Regions from separate parts of the Homo sapiens genome. Here region 1 is linked to region 2. Evidence: fine-mapped expression QTL. A gene starts in region 2. The other region holds a variant in brackets. All regions are shown on one strand. Distances are from middle to middle. Region 1 overlaps LOC105375653 (a long non-coding RNA gene). Region 2 holds the start of UQCRB (ubiquinol-cytochrome c reductase binding protein).

What was found. PIP is the estimated chance that this variant, and not a neighbour inherited with it, causes the effect.
Region 1: its variant is fine-mapped to the expression of UQCRB in tibial nerve (GTEx, PIP 0.91).

Annotation. Positions count from the first base shown.
Region 1 is chr8:96,442,553-96,452,729 of GRCh38, forward strand. All of the region lies in intron 3 of LOC105375653 (a long non-coding RNA gene), which reads left to right. Among named protein-coding and RNA genes, the nearest start is that of SDC2, 46 kb to the right of the region's middle. The variant TG/T (reference allele first, on the strand shown) is at 5,094.
Region 2 is chr8:96,231,259-96,241,423 of GRCh38, forward strand. UQCRB (ubiquinol-cytochrome c reductase binding protein) reads right to left here and starts at 4,287. Exons shown (of 4, transcript NM_006294.5): 1 at 4,254-4,287; 2 at 1,898-1,969; 3 at 516-682. The coding sequence starts at 4,272. UQCRB-AS1 (UQCRB antisense RNA 1) reads left to right here and starts at 4,035. Exons shown (of 2, transcript NR_183275.1): 1 at 4,035-4,303; 2 at 6,649-7,938. MTERF3 (mitochondrial transcription termination factor 3) reads right to left here. Exons shown (of 8, transcript NM_015942.5): 8 at 8,144-8,427. The coding sequence ends at 8,233. RefSeq lists an enhancer at 4,014-4,293.

The sequences.
Region 1 (10,177 bases), 210 kb after region 2:
GAAAACTTCATTAAACTAATATGGGTTTATTCAAAAGAGTGTAGTTTTAAGCAATCAGTGCTCCCTAGTTGAAATGGTGCTTTCTTGTTTTATAATAAAATATATTGGATAATTCAAAACTCTGTTAATTGGAACTCCATTTTTTTCTAAAATGGACTTTTTAGAAAATGTTAACCCATTTGAAAATGTGGTCATCTTTTAAAACATGAGCCATAAAGAAAAAGAAAACTCAGAAGCAACCTTAAAGTAGAAGATCTTGAAACTTAGTTCTATTTTGAATACTTTTGGATTTCTGGGACAGGGCCCCTGTGGTAGAGGGATGCAACAAATTTACAATGAACCAGCAGGAAAGGAGTTGAAGGAATATATGCAAACCTCACACTCCTCCCTCTCCCTCTTCTTCTCCTGGCATCCCCCCACCCGCTGCCACCCCACCACTGGCCAAACCTAACAGGAGGCCAGGTTGGTAAGGGAAACTGTTGCTGCAGTCCATTCAGGAGAGACTTCCAAAATACAAAGCAATGTGGAAAAGAGTAAAGAGTGAATCCACAAGAGTGAAGGGTGTGAAGGGTAAGTAACCAGCACTTGCCCCACAAGCACACTCACAGTTATCCACAAACATATTTGTGTAACACCTTACAGTTAGCAAGTACTCAACTTTCAAACATTTTTCAAATAAGTACTTGACCCATAGCAGGTACTCCATATATATTTATTGGACAAATCAATGAAATATATTATTTGTCACTGAATTGATTTTTTCTATTCCCAATAATTGGGCTTCTTTATAAATTACTTTATTATGGAATAATACCACAAAATTTACCATTTTATCCATTTTAAAGTATACAATTTGGTGCCATTAAGTTCAGTTGTGATGTTGTGCCACCATCATTCCTGTCTTCTTCCAGAAGTTTTCATCATTCCAAATGGAAACCCTATATGACAAATTATTTTTGAAGTGACAGACTTGTTTTTCATGCAAAGATTTGTGAAAGACAAAGGATTTATAAGATCTATTAGATAGTATGATAATTTTCCTATTAGTCAAGATTTTAAAAAAAGACTTCAATATTATTTTATTAATAGAAACAGTGAAATACATAGAGCAGTTACATAGAATTAACATACAGACAGCAGTTAATTCAAACATGGAACCTGAGTATTTGAGGAAATAACTTCCCATTGACTACCTTGATTGATTGAATTGGCCAGAAAGTCGATTAATTTTTCATTTCAATTGGACTATAGAGAGATGCTAACGCCCTAATAGCACATCCTTCCTCCTTCTCAAATGATGGAATATCCACTTTCAATTCCCAACCTTTGCCAATGAAGCCAGATAAATCTCTAAAGAGTTTTGATAACATAATTTGACAATCTCCATCAGCCAGTTCATGGCAGATGGGAGGTCTAGTCCTGGTTCTGCCATCACTAGCTGCAAGCATGCAGGGGCAATCTGGCCTCCCTTATCTGTAAAACAGGGGTTTTGGGGGCTGGACTTTGATTCCCTAAAACTCCTGGCAGCTCTAACATCCCCTGTGACTCTGGCTCTGCCCACAAACCTCTGAAGCTTTCACTGGAAAATGCTCTTAGTCTATGCACATCAAATATCTAACACACAGTATTTACCCTTCTGATGAAACAGCCAGAGTGGAATTTGACCTTTTCAACGAATCATGGATGTGAGAGCCAACATTCTGTGCACGTAAAGCCAGTTGGGGACAGGTTTAGCATTTGGGCATGTAAGTAAGGCAGATTTGTTGACTAACATGTTTTCAGTGAGTATTTTAATGATATGGGGAAGCTAGTTCTGACCTATTGTCAGCAGCACAGTTTTCCCTACAGAACTGGTTGACTGGCACTAATTCATCCCCATTCTCCCACCTGGTCTCCTTGGTAACCAAGGTCCTAGATCTATGAGATATTTGCAGGACATCTGGCCAGGATTAAGGCACAGACTAGTGCTATCAGAGATCAAGCCCATAGCCTTGGCCTTTGAAGATCCCAAGCGAATTAAAGAACTGCAACCACAGGCAGGGATGTGAAACCACCCAATCCTGCTGCTGAGTCAGGTTAGCACAGCAGCTGAGAATGCAGGCTCTGCAACCAGGCTGCTTGGAACTAAACACCAGCCTGTCCCTTACTTATAGTGGAACTTTGGGCAAGTTAATTTGATTCTCTGGGCCTCAGTGTCCTCCTCATTCATAAAATGAATTTAATAAAAGTACTTTCCTCATATGGCTGTTGACAGAATTAAATGCATTAAAATACTAAGAGAATCTAGCCCTGTACATAGCAAGGGTCCATTACAAATTAGGCAGTGGTAATACCAATGTGATGACCAGTAGCTAGGTTTAACACCAATAAGAAAAACAGGGATTTTCAAGACAACCACAGACAGCATTGTTTTAGGGAGATCCACAGCAAAGATGGTAGGACTTTAAAAATGTAGCTTTGAAAGCCTCTGCTAGATTGCCATGACCAAGTATGCAAGGTTAGACTATCAGGCCAGGGATCTGAACACAGTAAAAGGTTGTGGAGATTTAAGATCATAGGTTTTGGCATCAGATAGATGTGAGTTGGGATACTAGCTCTGCAGATCACTAGCTGTGAGAACTTGAGTAAGTCCATCTATTGGAGCCTTGTTTTCCTGAAATGTAAAATGCGGATAGAAGCAGAACCTGTCCCAGAGAGTCATGCTAATGACTAAATGGATAACGCATGCAAAGTCCTCAGCATACTGCCTGGAGCATAGCAAACCATCAATAAATATTAATGGCTATTGTTACCAGGTCTGATGATGCACATATGACCCCAGTTTTCTCCCGTATTCCTAAGTTTATTCACTTACTCATTCATTTCATCTGTCAAACATTTGTCGGTACTAGCTTTGTGCATTTTATCAAATGGGACACCAAGGAATTAAAAAATGATTAAGAGATGAGGTTCATGCTCCTATCTCATAGACTAGCCCAGAAGTGAGTAATAGATACTCCAAGTAACAGGAGGGCCACTGCCCAGCCCCCTATGCACAGTTTGGGATCACAGAAGGGAGCAGCCGCAGGAAGCAAGAGGCGGGTCAGGATTAAAGGAGGTGTGTGGAAGAGGCTCTCGATGGCTGAGGAAAGGCTGTACGGCCTAGCGGTGAGGGGCACAGGCTCTAGACTCCAAGGGCCTACACTCACAATTCCAGCTCTGCCACCATGAGCTCCCGTGACTTGGTTAAGCTACTTTATTTCTCAGTGCCTCAGTTCCTCTCAGTTACAAATGATAAAATGATAATACTTACAGAATTAGTGAGTTAAAACATGGGAAGCATTGAACCGTGTCTGACTTGTAGTAAAAGTGATTGTTATGGCATGGATAAGAGAATGGGAGAATTCTCCAGGCAGGTTAGTGCTCAGGAGCTTCCTTTTTTCCTTTTGAAATGAGATACGCCCACGTAATCCTGCCACTGTGGTCCTCAAAGTCCAGAAAGATGAACCCTCTTAGTTTATCTCAAGAAAAACTTAATCTTAGCTATGGCTTATCAGAAACACATGTGGCCCCTAATAGATTATATTTCTAGTATGTACTATATATATTATCTACTATATATGTTGCATGCATATAATACATATATATGTCTTCACTTTCCCTTTGGGCCACTTTTCAGCAAGCACTGATTCAATATTATGTGGCACACAGAAACCACTTCCCCTTGGCCTCCTGGCATCCCACCCTCTCAACACTCATCTCCCCAGGTCCTAGCCTCATACCGTCATTGCCCTGGGGTGGAGCTGATGAGTGTCATCTTGGAGGGCTCTCCATAGTTCCCTGACTGGGGTCCTGTTTGCCTGTGTTTTCAAATTCTTTAGGTAGAGTACCCACCACATAAGCCAGCCTCTTTCATGCTAAAACCAATCATCTCCCATAGAAAAATATGTACCTATTTTATGTTAAAAGACCCCCTCTGCACTAAGGCAGAACAAAGAAAAACAATAGGGGTGGCCACAGCATTGAACCAACAGGAAATATGTTAAGAAATTTTCTACTTAATTCCCCACACAGAGGTCTGGTACAGAGACCATTTCATGGCTTTCTTTATAAGGTCACCCAATGCCAAGCTTAAGCTCCTGAGGTCTAATTTAGGAGGGTTAAGAACTTAATAGAGAATTCTAAGAGCAGCTGGGTAGATGCATCATTCCCTAAACCCCACTGGGATCCTGATTCCAGCAGCATCAAAAGTCTTACCTCCTGACCACCAGTGACTCAGTGAGCAGCCTGGCTCAGTGTGTCACCATGATGCTTGTCAGTGGATGCATCTGGCCTCACCGGCCATATGGTGGTTTGGAAGAGCTCTTTTGTAGTTTGATGGTTTGGAAATGACTGGGGCTCTCTTCACATTCTGTGCTGTTGGCTCATTTCTATTGGAGAAGAGCGGCTGCTTCTAGGGCTGACTTTGCCCTTGACACTGCTGATGGAAGCCTTATGAACTGATGTTTTTCATCATTCAAGCCATAATATCTTAACTTGTTAAGGCAGATAGGTAAGAACTAGTAGCTTAGGAGCAAGTTGTCAACAAGCAGCATTTCTTGAACAATTAAGATGTGTCAGACATGGTGTTGGTTGCTGGAGATACAGGGAGATAAACAAGACAAATAAGTCAGACCAGTTGGGGAGAGAGATGAAAATGGCGATCACAGTCAAGTGGGACAAGTCCATAGGAGAGGGTGTGCGGGAGGCCATGGGAACTAAGCGAGCCAGAAATAGCTTCCAAAAAGTAGCTCTACTTGAGTTATAAAAAAAGAGTACCATTAATTGAGCACCTACCATGCCTAGGTCCTCTCCCGTATATTTTACTTGTGTTATTTCAATTCATTCTCTCACCAAAGACACACAGCTAATAAGCAACAGAGCTAGGGTTTGAATACAGGGCAGTTTGAACCAAAACCCATTCCACTCCATCCCACTGCTGAGAAACTAGGCAGGCCTGGGACAATGGGTGGGAAGATAGGATCTCAGGTCAGGGAAACAGCCCTAGTAATGGGAAACAACTGTGGACTCTAAGCCAAACAGAAATGGCAGGTGTAGAAATCCTTTCCCAGGCC[TG/T]CGGCAGCATGTAGCACACGCTGTTACTAAGCCCCGAAACGGCCTTAGACTCCTTCTCAATTCACCCCTGCAGGATCACTATGAATCAGTTTTGAACGCTATTTGCTAACTGGAATAACTAGATAAATCTGGAAGGGCCATAGGGGTTCTAAAGGAAACTCGCAGAGCCAAAGGCTCAGGAAGGACACTTTTTTCCAAGTTCTCAGTTGCCTCAAAGGGAAGAACGTTAACCCTGGAAATTCTACTACTCAAATGCTGAGGCTAACGCTTACTTAAGGAACAGGACCTGACTTCAAGGTTAAGGTGCCTTTCTTTGATGTTTCAATCCTGGTATTAGCTACCAGCAGACACTTGTTGACTAGCCCAAATCCAGACCCTAGAATGGCACTGAAAGCTTGGAAAGAAGTGCTCAAACTTGGGCTTTGCATTGAATATCTTAAGAACAGATTCACATCAGCTACTTGCTTCACTCTCCTATTTAATTAAAGCACTCTTACTGTCGTTACGGAGAAGCATTAAAGGCTACTCACCTTTGGTTGAAATGTTTATATTTGGCTGCACCAACTTGGAAGATCACTTTGACCCAGCCAGAACTTTGATTAATAATCTCCAACATTTTCTGCCTCTACAATTTTTGAGCACTCGGCTGATGTTTGATGCCCAATTGGGATTAATCTCCATTTCCCATTAAGAGGAGTAACTATTTCTCAGGTAGTTTTTTTGTGTGTGTGTGTGCTGGCTGCAATCTTTGCAATATCCTTGCAGGGGCTCCTGTGGGCTTAAACATATGACATTCAAAAAATAATATGTAAATGAGTTTCTATCCATTTTATCAAGGGGGTTGTTTTCTCCATTTGTAATCTGTTTTTATGATTTTATTCTTCCTGCAGGAAAAAAAGAAGTTAGAGGTGCATTCAGCCCATACCCATAACATTGAGACCAGCTCTCTGTGATGAAACTGGAAGCAAATTCCAGATGAGAGCCCCAATTGTGCCAGAAAAGCATTGCAAAGCCCAGTGATCCTGACTAAATTGTCACACACAAAGCAGAACCTTTGATAAGAGCCATACAACCTCTGTTGCCTGGGTAACCATCAATCCATCAAGCCAGCCTTGAGTCATAAACGGTGAGAGGAGAAGGGCTGCCAGGAAAAAGGGGTGTACAGACACTTCTTGTTCCTCCCCACCTCCAGATGTGGCCTGAGGCTGCCATGCAAGGTTAATAGAAGCCTACTGTTATGTCCCTACAGACCTAAAAGACCCCTCTTACCTTAACCCTAATTCAAGGATTCTTGGATCTCCATTAGTCTTATTACAAAACCTCCTCAGGTTCTTATCAGTGCTTAGCACCTTACCAGCCCTAAGCCATACTCCTCAAAATGCCGGTCCACTGATTGGCACTATGTTGTTCACAGGATGCCTCCTGGACTGCACTTTAGTAACACTAGACTAGGGTGTCCTCAGGACAACCGCGGCTGCTCACCAGAGCTCACGCGCTTCCTGTCACTTTCACTTTGGACTGTGCTGATGAGAAATCTACTCTATGGTTCTGCTTTCCATCACATCCAAGATGCTGCACACAAATTGAGAGAGAAAAATTGATAAATATGCCTTCACTGAGCAACTAGTTCTAGTTCTGTACCAACACTTCTAGGTATATTCCCAAAAGAACTGAAAATAGGTGTCAAACAAAAACTTGTACGTGAATGTTCATAGCAGCACTATTTACTTCCCATAGCCAAGGGTTGGAAACAAACTAAATGTCCATGGATGGATGAATGGATAAATAAAATGTGGTATAGTATACAATGAAATAGCATTTGGCCATAAAAAGGAATGAAGTGCTGATACCTGCTACTACATAGGTGAAACTTGGAAACATACTAAGTAAGTGAAACAAGCTGGACACAAAAAGTCACATATGGTATGATTCCATTTACATAAAATATTCAGAATAGGTAAATTAGTACAAACAGAAGCAAATTAGTGGTTGCCAGGGATTGGAGAAGAGGAAGTATGAAGAGACTTCTTAATGGATATGAGGTTTCCTTTTGGAGTGATCAAATGTTTTAGAACAACATAGAGGTAATGGTTGTATAACATTGTGGATGTGCTTAATGCCACTGAATTGTACAGTTTAAAAATCTTAATTCTATGTTATGTAAATTTTACATTCATAAAAAGCAGTACAATGAAATTTATTATTTTAAAATAAGAAAAAGCAGAAAGAAAAACATTACCCTATAATTCTACCACCCCAAACCAAATTCTGTTCCCAATTTATTCCATGTATGTTCCATAGTAATAATTCATACTGCACATATAATTTATACTTTGTTTTAAAACTTAATGTTATTTCCAGGATGGGAACAGTGGCTCATGCCTGTAATCCCAACACTTTGGGAGGCTGAGGCAGGCCCAGCCTGTCCAACGTGGTGAAACCCTGTCTTTATTAAAAATACAGAAAAAAAAATTAGCTGGACTTGGTGGCGGGCGCCTGTAATCCCAGCTACTCGGGAGGCTGAGGCAGGAGAATCTCTTGAACCCAGGAGGTAGAGGTTGCAGTGAGCCGAGATAGTACCACTGCACTCCAGCCTGGAAGACAGAGCAAGACTCCGCCTCAAAACAAACAAACAAACAAAATGTAATGTTATTTTCAGAGCATTATCTTTGTTACATAAGTTTCATAATCTTTAACTACCGAAGAAACTTTCTTAATATACATATTTTAAATTGCTTCTTAAAATTATTGTACTAATTTATATTGACACCTGAAATATATGAAAATATCTATTTCACACACACCCTTGCTAGCATTGACTAGTCTCCCAAAAAGAGAGGAAAAAAAGTTAATTCATTTCATTTGATTGTTAGGTTGTTATTGATTTTATTTGACTATCTTGAAACAAAAAATTTTGTTTTCTGTTTTGAAACTAATCCAATGTTTAGTAAAGACTCCTCTATGCTTTATTTTGTTAGAGTAGATACTAGTTAGTCGTTATTGTTTTGGGGGTAATCCCACAGTAAATGCTTTTAAACATACTATACTAGAAACAGTTTGTCCCTGAAGGAGGAATTAGAAAATTGGAAGACTGATATGATCAAATTACCTACTGCAAAACTGAGCAGAGATAGAAATTATGAAAGATAAGACATAGAAATAAAAGTTTAAAGTTCCGGAAAAAATCAAATAGATCGTATCAGTGAAGGATTTGACCTAGTACAATTGTTGGAAGTGGTTAGACACCCCATGAAGCTATCGCCTTCCTGTCTGATGCTGCAGTAGCCACCATTTAGCCCCTCTGGCTGCCAGTAGTCACAGAAATAAAACAGACTGGCATTGATATATTTCCTGAAGTGTGGGTTGTTGGGGTTTATACATGGTCACCTCCTTATACCCCAAGGTGTGTGTGTGTGGTGGGGGAGGGACAGTGAGTAGTGACACCAGGAGCTGGGACTGTGGAAGCCACTTGTTTTTTCTTCTCCAGGAATTAGTAGAGATTAAATTTCAACCCTGAAACTTAAAAGTAATCACAAGAGCAATTTTTTTTAAGTTTACTCTTTAACATTATTCTGTTGAGATGCCACTCACATGGCAATGTGGCAGAAAGCCACAGAGGTCACGCACACTTCACTGCAACTTGGCTTGTTAACGAGTCACTGGAGATGAGGCAGAGGAGAGCCACATCAGTGGCTGCCCTGCGACCTTTGCCCACAGCCTTTCTGCTCCTCACTGAGCCTCCTGGCTAAAGCATCCCTTTGGAGGATTGTAAAGAATGGCTTAAAAAAAGGAGAACTTTAGGATTTCCATAGACATTGCCCAAGATTAATCTTGTATTTGTTCTCTAGTAAACCCAGGTAAGAATATCGCAGAATAGTCTACCAGGTGGCGATCTGTCAAGATGCAAGATTCTCCTCTTTCCTATATTAGAGTAGAAATAATGGGAGAAATGGGTTCAACTTCAGTGTGCAGAAGAAACTGGGATTGAACTGTGATAAAACTTGTTGAAATAAAGCACACACATCATATGGACTCCACTTACAATGGGAGGAAGCTGTGTTCTCACTGGTCATTCCTCCATCCTTCAATGCCAAAGTGCAATGCAGGGTGCTGACTTCCACACTCTATCACGTAGAGCCATTGTGTCCTGGAGGCCAATCCCACCTTTCGATCCCAGCAACTCTGTTCATATCTAATGTATATATTGGAATTATATTAAGATGTTGTTTGGAAACAGATCCCAAATTCCAAAATTAGTTTGTAAACCCACTGGTTTTTTTTTTTTAAACCTATGATCTATAATCTATAATTAATTGGTTTGGGTCTCAATTTTAATTTCTTCAAGCTGTGTTATCTTAGGCTAGCCACTTAGTATTTTGCCTCTCGAATTCCTTACCTGAAACATTGGTATACTGACTATTCACTGATGTTTCTGAGGATCAGTCATGCGGGCAGTAAATAAGCTGTAGGCCCAGGGGCCCAGAACAGCTATTGAGAGGTGACAGCATGCTGGCAGCCCTCGCAGCCCTCGCTCGCTCTCGGCGCCTCCTCGGCCTTGGCACCCACTCTGGCCGCGCTTGAGGAGCCCTTCAGTCCGCCGCTGCACTGTGGGAGCCCCTTTCTGGGCTGGCCAAGGCCGGAGCCGACTCCCTCAGCTTGCAGGGAGGTGTGGAAGGAGAGGCGCGGGCGGGAACCGGGACTGCCCCCGGCACTGCCCCCGGCGCTTGCTGGCCAGCAAGAGTTCCGGGTGGGCGTGGGCTCGGGGGACCCAGCACTCGGAGCGGCCGGCCTGCAAGCCTCGGGCAGTGAGGGGCTTAGCACCTGGGCCAGCAGCTGTGCTCACTTCTCAGCGGGCCTCAGCTGCCTCCCTGTGAGGCAGGGCTCCGGACCTGTAGCCCGCCATGCCTGAGCCTACCCCCAACACCATGGGCTCCTGCCTGGCTGGAGCCTCCCCAACGAGCGCTGCCCCATGCTCCACAGCGCCCAGTCCCATCAACAACCCAAGGGCTGAGGAGCCTGCGCACGGTGGGGGACTAGCAGGCAACTCCACCTGCAGCCCAGTATGGGATCCACTGGGTGAAGC
Region 2 (10,165 bases):
AACCTAAGAACTATCTGCTTTTTAAAATGTCAAATCTGTGGTGATGGTGTGATAAGTTGCTTTGATAGGTTATGAGGGGGAAGTCTTTTCGGGAAGAAAAAGAAATGAATGTCCACAGGCCTTTGCCTAGTTTCAATGCAGTTCAAGGGGTGAGAGTTTGCTTCACAGAAGCTCTTCTTGGGATCTGGAGGGACACTCAATGGGCTGATCTTTTCATCTAAGTAGGAAGCAGAGTGCAGAGCTGGAACAGCAAAGACCTGGGAGGCAACAGACCTGGATTTTAGTCCTGGCTCTCTATATTAGAGACTTGCTTAGTAATTTCAGAAGAATCATTTCACACGTAAGACTCAATGTGGTTTTCTTCTAAAACGGAAATAACATTTGCTTTATTAACCTCACATATTTATTTGACATGACTCAGAGAACTCTAACACTATGCAAATGAACATGTTTCTCTTGTTTCTAAAACTCCATCCTTAATGAGCAACACTGTCAGGTAGATAAAGCTGTGCTACCTCTTCATATTTGGTCCACTGCTCTTTAGGCAAGATCTGATGCTTCAAGTTCAGGTCCAGTGCCCTCTTAATGCGAAACATCCTGTCATTATAAAGGTTCTCAGGAAGTCTTCTTATGGCTTCTTTTACATCTTCATCCTCGTATATTGTATCATCTCGCATTAACCCTATGATAGATGACAAAGTTAGATTGCACATGCATCTCAAAAATCGCGGTTTTTTTAAATTAGTAAAATACCTTTATGACTTATAACTTACAACTTTTGGTGAACTATCGAATTCAAATCACTAGGTTCAATGGAAATTCAATGCATTTCATACATTATAGGTTGGTGCAAAAGTAATTGCAGTTTTGCCATTAAAAGTAATGAGTTATTACTTGATATAATGGGTTACTTCTTGAACTAGACTATGGAAACAATATATGAGCCTCTTAAAATCCAATGCCACAAAATTCATATTTTATCTAAACCATTTACAAAATATTTTAAATGTTTACTTTGTTTTTAAACACACATTAATAAACCACATCTCTTTTTTCTCATAGTTTAAATCTGAGATCAAGGTATTAAAGAATCTTAAAATGATAGTATACTAAGGAACAGTGACTTTTGCTTACACTTTCTTCAAGCTTCAATAGTAAAAGATGAAGTTCATGGTAAATTACAAAGTTCTAAAAAAGCTTAGGAATCATATGATTGCATGGACGTGATAAAATTTTAATATTCAAAAACTCTCTACTTTCAATGTTTATATAATTTAAATTAAAATTTTAAGTGGAAGGCCGGGCGCAGTAGTGCACACCTATAATCCCAGCACTTTGGGAGGCCGAGGCAGGTGGATCACCTGAGGTCAGGAGTTTGCGACCAGCCTAATATGGTGAAACCCCGTCTCTACTACATACAAAAAAAATTAGCCAGGCGTGGTGGCACACGCCTGTAATCCCAGCTACTCAGGAGGCTGAGGCAGGAGAATCACTTGAACTCGGGAGGCGGAGGTTGCAGTGAACCGTGATTGCGCCACTGCACTCCAGCCTGGTGACAGAGCAAGACTCTGTCTCAAATAAATAAATAAATAAATAAATAAAATTTTAAGTGGAAGAGTTGGGAAAGGGGGTGTAGAAGGAAAATGTCTTACTACTTAAATCATTACCAAGTCGAACATTTTAGAGGCTTTCATCCCTCTTCTCTCAAAAAAACTTTAAAAAGGAACTGGATTTAACATAATGTGATTTAATTTTAAAATCTTCTGATGTATACAAGAACTGAAATGGTTTTTGGAACCACAGTAACACTTGCAAAAGCAATACTCTCAGAAAAACAAAAAAAAAAACAAAGAAACAACAACAACAACAAAAAACATTAAACAGCACAGCTGCTTACCCAGTTTATTGAATCCTGCAGCATTGTAATACCATTTTCGAATACCATCCAGCCACTTGCCTGATGCTGAAACTGATAATTGTCACACTGTTAATTGCTACAATTTAATTATACTATATGAACACATTGATAGGCAAGCAACCAGTACTCAGTTATCTTGCTGATGAATGCAAACATAGAAATAAATTTCCTTTTAAAAGTATATAGTATATACAGCAAGAATTTAATCAAAAGAATTAGATTTAAAAGAAAAAAGTTTATACTCTATAAAATGTTGATAAAAAGTGCTTATTTTATTTATGAGCAAAAGTGGTTGCAGGAAAATGGTGGCAAGTCATGAAAGAAAAGGGTAAACTCAAACACTGAATGTACAAAAGATCCATAGGTACATCGTGTGCCCTTATGCCTGCCCTGTTACCTTCAGAAATGAAGGGGTGGGAGATAGGAAAAGGACTTGGAAATTTCCATCATTTGTAGTTTCATAAATAGATCACAGGAAATAATTGTAAACTTTTCATTTCAAGAGAGCTGGAGTTGTAGGGAAAAGACAGTGAGATTTCAGCATAGACTGGCAGGTCTAAATGACCCTCATCCTCTAAAATTTTTACTCGATATTACAGTTATTTCATTTGGCCACATTCTTTAAAAATGTATGTATTTTGGGGAGGATTTTGATACCATTAGTCATTTAAACATTAATATGGATTCGTAAAAGAAGTCCATTTACCTCCTCCTAAGCAACTAAGTTCCCCCCAAGGGAATGGATATTGAAAAAGGATGAGAAATAGGTAATTTTAAAACTGTTTGGGGAACAGGGCTGAGCCTGATGAAGTAACCCAGCAGGGTCCAAGTACAGCAGGACCGTATCTGACATTTTAGGAGAGACATTTTACAAAAGGAGAGGTAGAACAGGTTTGTATTCTCTTTTAAAATTTTGTCTAGGGTTAGCCCTTACCAAGGAAGGAAAGCAAACTCTCCTTTCACTCAACTCTCCTTGCTTGCAAACTCAGTGCACTACAGATTACGTGGCTTTAGCAAATCTCCTTGGAAATTAAGAGTCATGTATAAAACTGCTGCTAGAAAAACAAGTATCAGTCAACAATCTACAAACATACTTGTGGAAGACAGATTATATTCAACCACCTATCAGTGACTATAATAATATTCACTAAGCACTTATTGTGCACCAAACACTTTCCTATTTGCTTTACCAACATTAGCTGATTTATTTACATGTCTGTTACTACAGAAGGGGAAGCTGGCTTACAGAAGTGATCCCACCCAAGGTCAGAGTTAGCTAATGGGAGTTGAGATCTGGTCTATGTAGTTCCCAAACACGCACAGAAGCAGTGTCTTGAATTTAGTAAGACTCCTTCAATATCTGCCAAATTAATAAAATAATTATTTAAAAAGTCTCCCCCACCCCCAAAAAGCTCAATGTCAATTAGGTTAACGGATGTTTCTGGCAACCTGATGTTTCCTAACAGCTTCACAATTGCTGGGGGCGGGGAGAAAAGGATCAACATTTTTTAAGCTACTCCAACTTGGTTGCATTGCAGTGAGACGAGATTGTGCCATTGCACTCCAGCCTGGGCGACAAAGCAAGACTCCGTCTCAAAGACAAAACAAACAAACAAACAAAACGGCTACTCCAACTTGTACCGCCAGAGGGCAGAGATTAGCAAAAAAAAAAAAAAAGAAAGAAAAAAGAAAAAAAGAACCTACAATAAATTCAAATTTCTCCAAACCTACTGATCAAGCTGACGCTCTAGATAATCCAAGGTCAACCTGAAGCGTCGCTCGTATCCCTTGCTCAACTGTCTCTGATTCGCAGTTTGAGAAGCGCGAGGGGTGCAATGATATTTCCAATTCTACTTCCTTGGGTCACTTTGCCTCAGTTATCTTATCAGCGTAAAAGGGAAATTAATATCTCCCTCGTCGCAATGGCAAGAAAATTTATAGGGCCAATGCACACGATAGAGCACTTGGGTCATAGAAAGCACTGAGCTCATTCGGGTTGAAAGTCATCCACTAGTTATCCTCTTGTGCCCTTTAACTTTTCTAAGGCCAAGGGGAAGGACTTCCAAGCACGGGCAGCTGGAACTCCAGGGCTGTCAGAGCCACCGCGGGCACCTTCACAAACAGCGGGTTAACATCCCAACCCTATACAGGCAAGCCCGCCCTGGGGACAGCAAACGAGTGGGGAAGCACATCCTTTTCACTGGACTGAAGCAGCCAATTTCCCTTCCGCGACAAACTTGGCCACTTACAAAGAAGAGAGAAAACGGAGCAAGCTGCAGCAAAAATAAACGGTGAAGCGCGACGATGCCGGCCAAGAAGACCCCCAGTTACTTACCGGCCTGCTTACCAGCCATTTTGACCAGAAAGAGAAGCGTTGCCTTCTGGGTAAGTCATAGAGGACAAGCTGGGCCCAGTCCGCAGGCGCGTTACGTCACATCGCGAACAGAGAAAGGCCGCTTGCGCAGGCGCAGTTCTGACGACTGCCGTTCAGCACCTGCGTAAGCACCTCTCGGCCAGGGTGAGGCCAATGGAGTAGGCGGGGCATTTTGCGTGCTACATTCTAAGAAGTATTGGTTGTGATGTGATGGGAAGAACACAGGTCAGGAATTAGGAGACCAAGGCTTAAAGCTGGGTTCTGTTATTTGCTGTTAATAGCTATGGGAGCGTGGACAGTATTAATTCAGCTCTTTGTGCCAGGCAGGAAGCTAAATGTTTTAAGGGCATCGTCTTACTTTCTATTGAAGGACTGATGGATGTGCCATCCCAAAAATATATGGAATTGGTACATTGATTATTTCGAGTTGAAAATATTGGAGAAATTGTAGTTTCAGAAAAGGTTTGATGACCTATCTCTTCCTGCATGCAGCAAGCCATAAAGCTTCCTCCAGGATTCCTCTGGAGTACCCGTCCCTTACCAGAGGGAGAAAATAGCACCTATCACCAGAGACGAAACTGGGGGCTGCTTTGGACCTGAATATACTTTCCGAAGTAACCGTTATCTTCCACTAAGTTTACACCCCAACACACACACTTTTCTCCTAATGACTCCGCGAGAAATTTACTGCCCCTAGCCAGATCCCCTTTCTTCTGATTTGTAGTTCGTGTAAAAAGTATAAAGGCATCTTACATTGGCCACTTCACTCTTTTGTGCGGATCCCCATGTACATGTAAAACTAGTAAAATTAGTATGCTTTTCTCTTGTTAATCTGCCATGTGTCAATTTGGTTCCTAGATTCAACCAAAGAGCCCACATAAGAGCAAAGGGGAGGGAGGGTTGGAGGTGATCTCTCACTCCCCTAAACTATCTTTTAATTCTAAAAGTACTGTAATTATCTCATTGTAGAGAGGAGAAAGCTGAGGCTCAGAAAGGTTGAATAACTTGTCCAAGAGCACATGACTAGAAGAGTCCAGGTTCTTCTTCCAGAATCTGAAAATCCAGATGCAAATTTGGGGCTCCTTAATTCTAGGGTCATATGCTATACTGCTACACTACTAATCCAGGAAAGACACCAAGCCTTTCAGGCCTTGGGTTTCTCCAGCTGAAGATCTATATCTAGCTATTTTAGTGGAAGGTTAGGTCAGAAAAGGTTTTGGGTTTTTTTTGTTTGTTTTTTTTCACCCTTTTTTTTGTTGTTCAGCCTCTGTCACCCAGGCTGAATGGCACAATCTCGGCTCACTGCAACCTCTGCCTCCTGGGTTCAAATGACTCGTGCCTCAGCCTCCTGAGTAGCTGGGACTACAGGTGTACACACTACCATGCCCGCTAATTTTTGTATTTTTAGTAGAGACGGGGTTTCACCGTGTTGGCCAGGCTGGTATCAAACTCTTGACCTCAAGTGATCCACCCACGTCAGCCTCCCAAAATGCTGGGTTACCCGCGTGAGCCATCATGCCCAGCAGAAAAGGTTTTTAAAGATTAAATCTAAGATGTATTGCAGAATTTGCACACAATTTTAAGACAAAAGAGAAGTATATAGATTTTCTCACTTTTAAGGTCTCAACCCCAACATGCGAAGTCTTAGGCATAAACATCTAGAGACAGAAAACAATTAGGGGGAGCTAGCATGACTGATAGTTACTGGTGAACTTCTACCATTACTCAGTGATATCTTTTTTTTCCCCTCAGTTTTAAGCTCAGAGCTGGGACAATATAGAGTAGAACCTTGTCTCATCCTAAGTTCAAAAGGTTAGATTTAACGATCTTAGTCACATTCCAGTTCTAAAATTATATTGATTTTCCTTTTTCTTCTATCTCCATGCTGTCACAATTTCTTCATTAGTCAGTCCTGTATACAGCACTAAAGCTGATGAATGATCTATCTTACACTAGCCAAAGTGAAGTCTGAAAGATGTGAAGAAATGCAGTACATTTGTACATTGGCACATTGCCCTGCAGAGGGTAGGTACTCAATAAACTCTCCTCCCTTCCACCCTTTAAGTTTTAGCTTGCTGGTTACAGGTGAAGGTGGCAAGAAAAGACATATCAAAAGATCTGAAACCCAAAATTGTCACAAAATCCAGCTCCTAAGGAATTAAGCTAGAGAGACTGAATGTTTGCTGGTAGTGATTGTTGATTCAAAAACTATTTTTGGTTTTCTTTCCTCCCAGCACAGGATTAGGGATTGCCTCTCTGCCCTATTAAAGTTAGGCATGGCCATGTGATACTTTGGCCAAGAAAAATGTGATAACTTTTTAAGAGCAATTCTTCACATTCCTTTCCTTTTCCATAGACTGGCAACACTCCAGAAATGATGGAGACAGGATACATCAACCTGTATCACTGAAGATGATGTGGAGCAGAGCCTTTGTGGTCCTAAGAAACATGTATAAGATAAAAACTTTTGTGGTTTTTCAATCATTTGAGGTTTTAGGATTGTTCATTGTATCAACACAACTTGCCTATTCTGACTGCTAAGGTTGTTCACTGGGTTATTCATAAAGGCAAAATGAGGTTGTGAGCCACAGAAAGAGAGGACAGGATGGTTCCATGGTGTCCCCAGCTTATTTTTTATTGTTTCCTGTTTATTGATCTCATCCATTGGAGAACTCCATGAAAGCACATATCTATGCCACACTCACCACTGTATTATAGAACTCAAATGTCGGTTGCATGAATAAAATATGTAACAGGAAGGCCACTATACCTGGCCCTGACCAATTACAAATTTAGTTTTTCATGAGGTTTTTTAAAGGGCATCCAGCACACCACAGAACCCTGTGCACAACAAACTACCCCCAAAGTTAGCGGCTTAAAACACTTTCTCCCAATTCTGAATTCCGCTGGGTCGTTCTGCTTAGTGTAGTATCTACTAAGTCTGGGACATCCCAGATAATTTCTTCATGCATGTCTGGTGCTCAGTTGGCATGTCTGAAAAAGCTGGGTTTGGCCAGACATCTTTCTGTCCACCTAGTTTCTCCAGCAGAGTAACCAGACCTCTCTACACAGTAGCTTAGGGTGCCAAGAGCAAATGTTCCAAGAGGGCAAGCCCTGATGTGCAAATCCTTAAGCCTCTGCTTGACAAATGTCCTCTGGGCCAAATCACATCGGCCCAGAGTCAGTGTGGGAGAGGACTAACTACACAAGAGTGCAAATACCAGGTATGGTTCATGGGGGCCCCCAGTGTTAACAGTCTACCCAATCTGGTGATCATAAGGCAGACAACTGAAGTCATGATGCTTCGTTTTACAAATAAAAAAGCAAAGGCTCAGAAATGAAATCACTTGCCCAGGATAACACATGTTGTAAATGGAAAACAAATATTTGTTTACTGGTAATAAGTCAAAGGCTAGTTAAGCCTTTCACTATATCTCATTGCCCCTAATCTTTAAACTCCACTTTCCTTTTCCTTATTCTTAGCCAACTGTGAATATCTGTGTTCAAGAAGTTAACAATGTAGATAATCCAAAATGAAGTGTGTTTTGTAGCATTATCTGAGCAGTAGATATTAGATGACTAATGTAGTATGCTCTGGAAACTCGTAACAGTTCAAAGGAAATAAAGCCATTTTATAATGAAACCACTTTAAAAATCCTCCACTGTTTTCATCTTCACGAGAATGACAAAGCACCAACTTAAAGTAAACCAACTCTTTCCCCTTCTCTGAGCTTGCTGTATTTCCTAAGAAGGAAGGAAAAAGTCAAACAAGAATTAAGTCACTAGGAACTTGATGAAAGTTCTACCACAGTATATGTACCCAAATTTACAGTATCAAATGGTTTCCAATATCAGTTGAGACCCGAGGCATTTAAAAATATATTCATTTATTCATATATATATTCACTTTACAATACTGCATTTTAACATACATAAAAATCTAAAGCGTTTTTAAGAATTTTTCAAAGTCCTGTACTGATGCTTTGGCAATCTCTTCACAAAATATTTCATCAGGAATAGATACTAGTTTGTCCAAAGAGATGTAGTTAGGTTTTGCTGGATCATACTGTGCTCTTCCTAAATAGGTAAGAAACAAGTGTCTTTCTTTGACCTTAAACAGCCTTGTATTAAATACCTAGAAAAGAAAAAAAAGTTTTTAAAAAACACTGCACACGGGAGGATGAAATATTAAAAAGTTTACTTGGCAAAAATTTTAATAGGTTAACCAATACCAAGTACTGACCATGTGTTCAGTAAGTAGGATAAATGCCAGAGGATTTAAATCCTATATTTTCTGTGAAGAAACTAGAAAAAGGGATTCAAAATCAACATACAAAACAATAATAAAATAATTCAGGGCTATACTGTGTGCAAAGAAGATTGAGTGCTCCAGAGACAGAGGAGAATGTGTTAAAAAAGCAAATCTTCGGCCGGGCGTGGTGGCTCACGCCTTTAGTGAGGCTGAGGCAGGCGGATCATCTGAGGTCAGGAATTCAAGACAAGCCTGGCCAACATGGCAAAACCCTGTCTCTACTAAACATACAAAAATTAGCTGGGCGTGGTGGCGCATGCCTGTAATCCCAGCTACTCAGGAGGCTGAGGCAGGAGAATTGGTTGAACCCAGGAGACGGAGGTTGCAGTGAGCCGAGATCGCGCCACTGCACTCCAGCCTGGGCAACAGAGTAAGACTCCATCTCAAAAAAAAAAAAAAAGGCAAATCCTCAAGCCTCACCCCAAAACTACTTAATCAGCAACTTTGAGAGCAGAACCCAGAAATCTGTCTTAACAAGCCCTCTAGATGATTCTGATATCTACCAAGTTTGAGAACCAATGTTAGAGATTAAGATGTTATTATATAAAAATGTATAAGATTTCATAATCTGTAACACCTCTCTCTCTCCCTTTTTTAAAATTTGCACTCCTCCCCTTAACTAGAATCAAAATGAAATGAATCTGACCTCTGGGAGAGCAACTAGGGAAAGTATGTCTTACCTGCCTCAAAGTAAAACTCCTAAAAACTAGAGTAAGCGGCAGCAACTTTAGAAAGGAGTCAGAAGCAGGCAAGGCTCTACAGCCAGCTACAGAAAGAAGAGACAAATGGGAGATCCGGCCAGACTTGAGCTACAGCCCTGAAGCCTGAGAGACCTGTGAGGTTCCCCGATGAGGCTCAGAGGAAGCCCTTTCAATATTATGCCTGCCTCAAGCTCTCCTCTTGGCTGTTACAGATATAATGTGAACACGGGATGCGTTCACATAACCCCTAGGCCTCTTTCCCTATATTCAAGTGGAAACAGTAACAGATCAGTTGGAAAGGACACTATGAAAAGCAATTGTTGAAAACCAAAGTACTATGAGAAGAGTGACTAAAAAAAGCACAGGGTGTACCTCAACATGGGTTTGGCTTGCTTTTGGAACAGAACATCTCCCTTCTCAGTCTCTGCTATTCTGCCCTTGTTCTGATAACTAAATTCCCATGATCACAATATTATGGATAACGAAGATGTAAGAGGTTTTAGATAGATTTTTTTTTAGAAGTATGACTCCTATGCAGTGATTCTTGGCTTAAAAAACTATCACCCGGCCGGGCGCGGTGGCTCACACCTGTAATCCCAGCACTTTGGGAGGCCAAGGTGGGCGGATCACGAAGTCAAGAGTTTGAGACCATCCTGGCCAACATGGTGAAACCTCGTCTCTACTAAAAACACAAAAATTAGCTGGGCATGGTGGCAGGCGCTTGTAGTCCCAGCTACTCAGGAGGCTGAGTCAGAAGAATCACTTGAACCCGGGAGGCGGCGGTTGCACTGAGCCGAGATCACGCCACTGCACTCCAGCCTGGCGACAGAGCCAGACTCCATCGCAAAAAAAAACAAAAA